Homo sapiens: one gene and its partner. The protein of the gene in region 1 interacts with the protein of each later gene in a pairwise test. Each region holds a gene or a part of one and is shown in the gene's direction. Other genes may lie near its edges.

Evidence for each region.
Region 2: the proteins of PRR5-ARHGAP8 (region 1) and CYGB interact in a two-hybrid assay, tested with the Homo sapiens proteins (one large-scale study listed by BioGRID).

Annotation. Positions count from the first base shown.
Region 1 is NC_000022.11:44,700,622-44,705,067, forward strand, and holds the start of PRR5-ARHGAP8 (PRR5-ARHGAP8 fusion protein), read left to right. Parts: upstream 1-1,582; 5' UTR 1,583-1,853; coding exon 1,854-1,987; intron 1,988-4,446. Other genes in the region: PRR5 (proline-rich protein 5), read left to right, coding at 1,871-1,987.
Region 2 is NC_000017.11:76,527,710-76,531,510, reverse strand, and holds part of CYGB (cytoglobin), read left to right. Parts: coding exon 1-51; intron 52-368; coding exon 369-532; intron 533-1,489; coding exon of another isoform or gene 1,490-1,559; exon of another isoform or gene 1,560-2,893; intron 2,894-2,899; coding exon 2,900-2,933; 3' UTR 2,934-3,801. UniProt on the Homo sapiens protein: Probable multifunctional globin with a hexacoordinated heme iron required for the catalysis of various reactions depending on redox condition of the cell as well as oxygen availability.

The DNA of each region.
Region 1 (4,446 bases):
TCAAAAAGAAAAGAAAACGTGTACAGCACTTGACAGTTAGTTTATAAAGCACCTGTTGCTGCCTGTGGGCCCCAAGCTGCCTGTGAGATGAACCGTTCCATCCCGCTTTACTGATGAGCAAGTTTGTCTGTTTATGTCTCTGTCTCCCAAAGACGATGGTATTTATGTCTGGAACACAGGAGGTACTCAGGAGACACTGGTTGATTTGCACTAAACAAAGACTCTTCATGAGGCTCTCTTACTTTTTATTTTATTTTATTATGATGATGATGATTTTTGAGACGGAGTTTTGCTGTTGTTGCCCAGGCTGGAGTGCAGTGGCGAGATCTCAGCTCTCTGCAACCTCTGCCTCCCAGGTTCAAGCGATTCTCCTGTCTCAGCCTCCTGAGTAGCTGGGATTACGGGCATGCACCACCACGCCCAGCTAATTTTGTATTTTTAATAGAGATGGGGTTTCTCCATGTTGGCCGGGCTGGTCTTGAACTCCTGACCTCAGGTGATCCTCCCACCTCGGCCTCCCAAAGTGCTGGGATTACAGGCATGAGCCATCACCTCTCTCTTACATTTTATATGGGGCCCTCCCAGCTCCTGGAGCTGTGGCTGTCACCCCCCATCTGATGGAGGGGTCAGGTGAGCCTTGTGGGAATCCCAGAAGCTGGGGACTGGGAAGGGCCCTGTTCAAGGGGCTGGACGCTCCCTGTGGTGAAGCCCAACTCTACCATTTGTTGATTGCACAATGTTGGCACAATGTTGGGCAAGTTATTTCACTCTGTGAGCCTCAATGTCCTCAACTGGAAAATGGGGAGAAGAATAATCTCTACCTCACGGAAGTAGTTCATGTTAGTTCATGTGAAATCAGACATCTAAAAGTGCTCTGCGAAGCAGGCAGGAAGCACCGGCTGTGCCCTGCCTTCACTGGGATCACTCTGCCCCCACCACAGGGACTTGGGAAACTGCTTGGTTTTACCATCCAAGAGACCTGGGGGTGGGAGATAAGGAGCAAACCCTCTACTTCTTCAAGCCCTCACTCCAGCAAATCCTCCAGGCAGCCAGGCAATGCTGAAGTCCCTGTCCAAGGGGGTCTAGGCTGAGCCCGGGTGGAGTGGGTTCTTGGGCCAAGGTGCCTGGAGGGGACTGAAGGCCTCTACCCAAAGTCCTCATGAGAACTGGGTGGGGGAGCCTGTGTTCAGGTGAGGGGTACGGAGGCACCTCTGTGGCACAGCCTTTGCGAGGAGGGCTGTGGAGGGAGACCTCCGGGGCCGGGGTCGAAGGACATCGTGTGGGCGCGACCGCAGTGCTGGGCGGGGGGCGGGCGCTTGGGCTTGGGCCCTGCGTCCTGTGCGTGTTGGTTTCCTGTGGGCACGTGGGGCCCTCGGAAGAGGGGAGGAGGGTGAGCACGTCCTCAGAGGGCAGACCCAGCGAGGCGTCGTGGCAGCTGCGGCCGCGGAGACGCCGGCTCCGCCTCTTGCACACGCCCCCTCGCCTGAGGCCCCGCCCCGCCCGCGATGCCCCCGCCCCCTTCCCCGCCCCGCCCCCCGGGGCGCCGAGACCCGCCCCTGGGCCCGCCCCCGGGTCCGCCCCCGGCCTCCGTTTGCGCCGGGTCTGTGCTGGCCGCGCGCCTGGCGCTCCACGCTGAGCCTCTCCGTGCAATGATTAACCCGGCGGGGCGGCCGGCGCGGGACCCGAGACGGAGGCGCGGGGCCGGGGCGGGACCCCGCAGGACCGCTCGGCTTCCTGCTCTCGCCGGAGTTTCCGCGTAGAGGGCGCATCGCCGGCCCGGGGCCCTTGGTGCGGCGTGGCGCAGGGCGCGGCGTGGGGCGCGCGTGGGCGCGGCGCAGGCGGCCCGGGTCACCATGAGGACTCTCCGCAGGTTGAAGTTCATGAGTTCGCCCAGCCTCAGTGACCTGGGCAAGAGAGAGCCGGCCGCCGCCGCGGACGAGCGGGGCACGCAGCAGCGCCGGGCCTGCGCCAACGCCACCTGGAACAGGTAAGGCCGCGCCCTCCCGGCCACCCGGAGGCCCTGGAGCCGGGGGAGGGGACCCCTGAGCCGTCCGCGGGCTAGGGGCCGCCCCGAGCCAGGAACGCTGCCGAAGGCGGCGCGGCGCTTCACAGTTTGCAAAGAACTTGCCCCGCCGGAGTGGTGCGGGCCTGGAGGAAAGTTCAGTGCAGCGTGGTTCCAGAACCCAGGGAAGGGAGCGAGGCCCGCCAGCGCCCGGGGCTGGCCCAGAAGCGCCCGGCGGGTGGGCGGCGGGGTGGGCCGGGAAGCCGCGTGCCCGCCTCCTACCCGGGGTCTTTCCACGTCTCCACTGCGGTGCTCGTGACAACCTGGGAGGCTAACGGAGCAGGAAGTATTTTTCCCATTTTGCGGCTGAGCACGGGAGCCTCGGGGCTCAGTGGGTGGGTCGCGCAGGCTTCCTGTGTCTCTTTAAGCTCCCTTCGGCTTTCCCTTGAGAGGCCCCCTGTCCTCCAGCTGTCAGCAGGGGGTGCGGCAGCTGCGAGGCATTCTTTAGAGGACTCTCCTCCAGGGGTCATTCCCAGACAAGCAGGGGCCTGGGAAGCCCCTTCTCCCAGCTTTGTTTGAGGAGCAAGTCCGGGATCTGGAAAAGAGACGGTTTATTTAGTGGAACTCCCCAGCGTCTCTGCTCCCTAGGAAAATGAGAGGCAGGAGAAAGTGAGGCAGGCTGTTCGCGGGAGGCAGTGGACACTGTTCGGGGGAGGCTGTGGACACTGTTCGGGGGAGGCTGTGGACGTTGCCCCTCTCGCGCCCACACCTGGCAGTAAAATCTTGCCAGATGCTCCACCGGCTGTGGTCTTGGCCACCGGGAACCCGGCTGTCACTTGGACACACGTTATTTTCAGTTCATTGAATGCATTGTGAGCGTCATGGTGGGCTCAGGGCTGCCAGCGAGACCCTCTTCAAACGTGGTCTCTTCTGTCTCTGAGTTGCAAACTGCTAGAGGGCTGTCACATGCCTGCCTCCGTTTCCCTCTCCGTCAGTGGGTATTCGCATTCCTCCCTGTGGGGAGGGCTGGTGTGGGAACAGTGAAGGAAGGACTCCTGTTGGGAAATCTCCCTGACCCAACGACTGCACAGTGTCTTAAGAGCTGTGTTCTCCACCAGGCACGGCGGCTCACACCTGTAATCCTAGCACTTTGGGAGGCCAAGATGGGAGGATTACTTGAGCCAGGGAAGTCGAGGCTGCCATGAGCCATGATGCCACCACTGCACTCCAGCCTCGGTGACAGAGCAAGACCCTATCTCAAAAAAAAAGAAGAGCAGTGTTCTCCTCCAGTATTGAGATGAAAGCCATCTCTCTGTCCTTGAATCTCTGCCGTGATTTAGAGGAAAGAGTTAAATAGACTTATTTCAAATCCCAACTCTGCCTCTTCCCTACTCTGTGGTCTTGAGCAAGTCAGGTCCTCAATTTCCTTATCCATAAAACGGGCAGATAACAGTGCCCACCTCATGGGGCTGTTGTAGGGATGAAATTTGAACATGCAAAATAAAGCCCTCAACACAGTGCTTAGCACATAGTAAGTCCTCTGTACCTCACAGCTCAACCCCAGACTCACGCAGTGGACCAGTGTCGGGGTGTCCCTGTAGGGATGGCATTTGGAGGGCTCCACAGGAATCAGTCAGTTCCTGAGCACCCACTGACAGCCACTTGGTGAGCTCCCTCCCACCCCCGAGGTGGGGCGTCCTGCTGCGGGTCCCCAGACAGGTGGGGGCACTGGCTGGTTGCTGGCTTAGACACTGCCCTCACCCAACCTTGGGTGACCCTGGAGTGGGCTCTGAGTCTCAAGTGTCTTCTCAGAGTTCAGGGAGGCCTCAGGGGGACTCTGCCTGAGCAACCCCCGCCCCACCAGATTTCACTCAGCAGCCTGGCAGATTGCAGAGAAATGCCAGCCCCTCCCCGCGGCACCTGCAGGGCTCCAGGTCTCCCAGCCCTTAGGCCTACATCAGCTCCCACCACCCCAGGCAGCAGGGGCACGGCCATTTCCTGCACTCCTCTTATGTGCCAGGCCCCAGGCCAGCCCCGTTCACTGCCCTTAACTGACTTTGCCACTCTCCTAGCCCAGCGAGGTATTACCAGCACCCCCCACCGAGAGATGCAGAAGGGCAGAGAGAGCACCCAGGAGACATGCCCAGCTCATCCATCACCTGCACAGGATGCAGCAGAGCCTGCGCCCCAGCTCTCCTCCCCAGCAGATGTGGGAGATGGAGCCAAGAGAAGGCAAACTGGCTTCACCAGCCAAGTCCCTGAGTGGAAACTGCAGGGAGCAGGGCACCCCTTCTGGTCCCTGTCTGCATGCTCCTGCTCCTAGCGGTGCTCCCTGCCAGGGCCCCCTAGGACAACAGATCTGTGCAGGGTCGGGGACAGGCGTGTCATTCTGCAGGGCCTGGCCGTGTACTCCTCATTATGAGTCCAAGACACACCCCCTTTTA
Region 2 (3,801 bases), on another chromosome or scaffold:
GTGGGGAAAGCCCACGCCCTCAAGCACAAGGTGGAACCGGTGTACTTCAAGGTATGCGCCCCCATCTGCTGCAGAGCCCCCACCGCCCACGCGTCATGGCCATCTGCAGCTCGCAGGCTCTGCGACGGCTCTCTGGAGCAACAGAGGTGATCCCCGGAGTGGCTGCGAGAGGGAGGGGCAGTGCCCGGCAGCAGGATGGAGGGGCTGGGTCCAGGGCAACCCTTGTCCTGAGAGCACGGGGTTCCCAAAGCTGCCAGACTGTTGCGTTAGGAATGATCCTCTCGGCCACACGTGGGGCGGAGGGGCCTGGGGGTTGCAGGACGCAGGGCGCCCGGGCGTTCACTCCCCCTTCCTCCCTTTGCCCCCAGATCCTCTCTGGGGTCATTCTGGAGGTGGTCGCCGAGGAATTTGCCAGTGACTTCCCACCTGAGACGCAGAGAGCCTGGGCCAAGCTGCGTGGCCTCATCTACAGCCACGTGACCGCTGCCTACAAGGAAGTGGGCTGGGTGCAGCAGGTCCCCAACGCCACCACGTGAGGAGGCGGGCGAGGGTGGGCTGGGCAGCCTCCCCGCCATGTCCTCTGCTGTCCCCGAGGTCTCCCATATCTCCTGAGGCCCTGGGGCTGATCACCTGGGCAGGCACACTTGAGGCAGGCCAACCCTGGGGTCTGACATGTAAGAACAGGCATAATAGGAAAGGCCTTCAAGATGGCTCCCCTGTGACTTCAGGCTGCTCAGAGCCATGAGCCCTGAGCAAAAATCCTCCCAAAGAGCCTTCCCCTTCCCTAGAGCCAGGGAGAGCTCAGAGCACCCAAAGCCACAGCTGCCCAGGCAGAGAGGCGCCAGAGGCTCCTGGCGGTAAGGTCCGATCATCAGGCTCGGAGGCAGCCCAGGTCAGCCCAGCCACTTCCTCCCTGGGTGCCAATCACAAGGGGCTGTTTTTTCATCTCATGCCGACCAGTGCTGCTAAATGCCCTCTGCCTCAATAGGGCTAGAGCCCGGAGGATCACGAGGACACATACACACACACACACACCCCAGCCCACGAGGAAGCTACATGGGTGTCGCTCACACGCACACGAGCAGGGGCATGTTTACTTCCAGGCTGACCTGGAGGCTGGGCTTCCAGTTCTGGGCCCAGGAGGTGGCTCAAGGAGGGTGGCCGCCCTCTGTGACTCCTGCTGACTCGGAGCGTGAGGGGAGGGCTAGCCCCCAGATGTGGCGGTTGGGAACACTCGGCCTCCCTGGGCCCCCAAGGGGAGGCTGACTCTGGGAGCTGAATGGAGAGGCGGAGGCAGGGCTGGAGTAGGAAGGAGGAGAGGAGCGGAGGCGGGAATGGGAAGCAGAGGTCAGCCAGCAGCCCGGGACACGCGTGGTAGAGAAACATTCCCGTGGTAGAGAAACATTCCCAGCAGTTTCCCATGGAAAAGGCGGCGTCTCCCGCCGGGCTCTGCACGGGCCCCCAAGACTGCCGGCCCTTCTGTTCACAGGCACAGCTCCTGGAGGAGGTCCCCTGAGGGCAGCTGGGGACGCCAGGCCTCCTGCCCTTCCTGCTGCTGACCACACTGGCCCCGGGCTGGCTCCTGCTCCCCTCCCCCCTCTCCCGTCAGCACCACCCCAAGAGAGTGGAGTCCTCGGGAACTGCTGGCTGGAGCCAAGCCAACTCCAGATGTGCACAGCTGGGCCCTGGCCTGCCTGAGACCTGGGAGTCAATGGGAAACAAGCAGATGTTGGCCCACCAGAGGAGGGCACTGGCAGGGCGTGGAGAGCAGTGGTTGCCCCCTCACCCCCCACCAGCTGTCACCCAGAGGGTCCAGGGAAAAGACAGGGGAAGAGGAGGGGAGGGGGCTTGCCTGCCCTCCCACCCCTCTCCCCACGCAGGCTCTGCTGCCAAAGATGAGTTTGTTTACAGCCAGGACACAAGACTTCCTGCTTCCAGAGAAAAGGGCTTTTTTACAAGGGCCAAGAGAGACTGGAAAGAGAGCTGGCTGGGCGCGAGCCCCAGTGAATCAGAAACACATGGCCCAAGTTCCCCAGCACGCTGCCCGTCCTGCCCTCCCCACCCTGCCCTAGGGACTAAGATCTCTCCAAACCCCAAACATTTTGAAACGGCCGAAGTCTCCTCCTCCGCCCACTTCTGCTCCTTGTGGACTGAATGGAGATGGGCTACCGTGGAAACTGGCACCCCATGGGGGTTACTCCCAGCTGTCAAGTGGTGGGGTGGTCCCCTCATCCCTTTACACCCTCTAGCCCACCCCTAGTGTCCCTGGCCTGAGCCTGCAGAGCCTCCCTGCTGCCAGGGTCCCCATGGGCTCGAGGGTAGGATGGAGTTACAGAGTAGAGTCCTAGAAGGCCCTCGCCCAACTTCTCTTATCAGGGAAGCAGGGGTGGGCCAGGCGCCACTGTTTATTGAGCCGTCTCTGCTCCAGGGTGTGCGCCTTTGCGTGGGTGGGGGGTGGGGGGGGGGCGCAATGACTGCAGGGGGCGCTGTGTGTACCGAGAATACGAGAATACAGATGGGTGGCCCGAGGAGGGACGAGACAGGCCGGACAGAATGCGCCACGTTTCAGAATTAATGGAAAAAGAGCTCACATTGGTATCGTGCTTTGCAGTTTGTGAAACACTTTTTTACCCAGTTTATGTCACAAGACAGACATTATTCACATTTTAGAGAAAAAGATCCGGAGCTCCCATGGGCCAGTAGACTTGCCTGAGATCACACAGCACGTTCGTAGCAGGACGGAGACTAGAACTTGGGTCTCACGGTTGCTTTCAACTGCACTGTGCCGGATCTCTTGGCAGGAAGTGAGCCTCGCCAGCCCCAGGTCCTCCCCCTTTCCCCCGAGGGTCCTTCCCTGCCTCTGGTAACGTTTGTCCTTCCCTTCCTATCTCGTCCACAGCCCACCGGCCACACTGCCCTCTTCGGGGCCGTAGGACCCCTAACTCCACCCCCCTCCCTGGCAGCACCTCGAGCAGAAGGCCGAGTTCTGAAGACCCTCCTTGACGCTCCATTTCTGGGTGCCAAGGAAGCTGGAGGAATCCCTGACTCAACTTCCCCGAAGGAGGCCTCTGTGGCGGCCAGGGTCCCCCCCTGGAGCTGCTGGGAGGCGGCGCTGGCTGCCTGGATGCTGACCCCAGCGCGGCGGGCAGAGCGGGGCCCACTCTTCTTAGCTTTTCTACTCACTGTTAGAGAGAGACCTAGCTGAGCGGCTGGCAGGAAGCGGGACAGGTCTAGGAGTCCCTTAGGGAATAAACCAGCCCCGTTTCTATCAGCCCGGCCAGCATGCAGGTCTCCACATCACCATCTAGAGTATCACGCACACATCTACCATATATACAGATATATTCTATATACGAGCTATATATAAATATATATATACATATATATATACACACATACATATCTAGAATGTGTATCCGCGGCGCCCAGAAGCCTCGGTTTGGCCCACCTGTGAGTGGGGCAGGGAGGGGTTCCGGTTGTGCAGAGAACAGAGTGTTCTGGCAAAGAGGAAATCCCACAGCAGCGCAGAGGACCTGGGCCTGGAGGGGCAGGGCTGGGGCAACCCGGCTTGGCGGCAAAGCCCAGCCCCTTCTCAGACCAGCTCCCCACATTCCTGAATTCCACTTCCAGGCAGAAAGGAGTGGGCTCCCCCTACTCCCTCAGAGGAACTGACTCACCGGCTGTCCTAGAATGGGCAGGGGCAGAGCGAAGTTCTGGGTGGGATGACCGCACTGGGGGAGGGGCCTCAGTCCAGAAACCTCGACCGCTAGCTCCACCTGCCTTGGCCACCAGGGCAGCCCC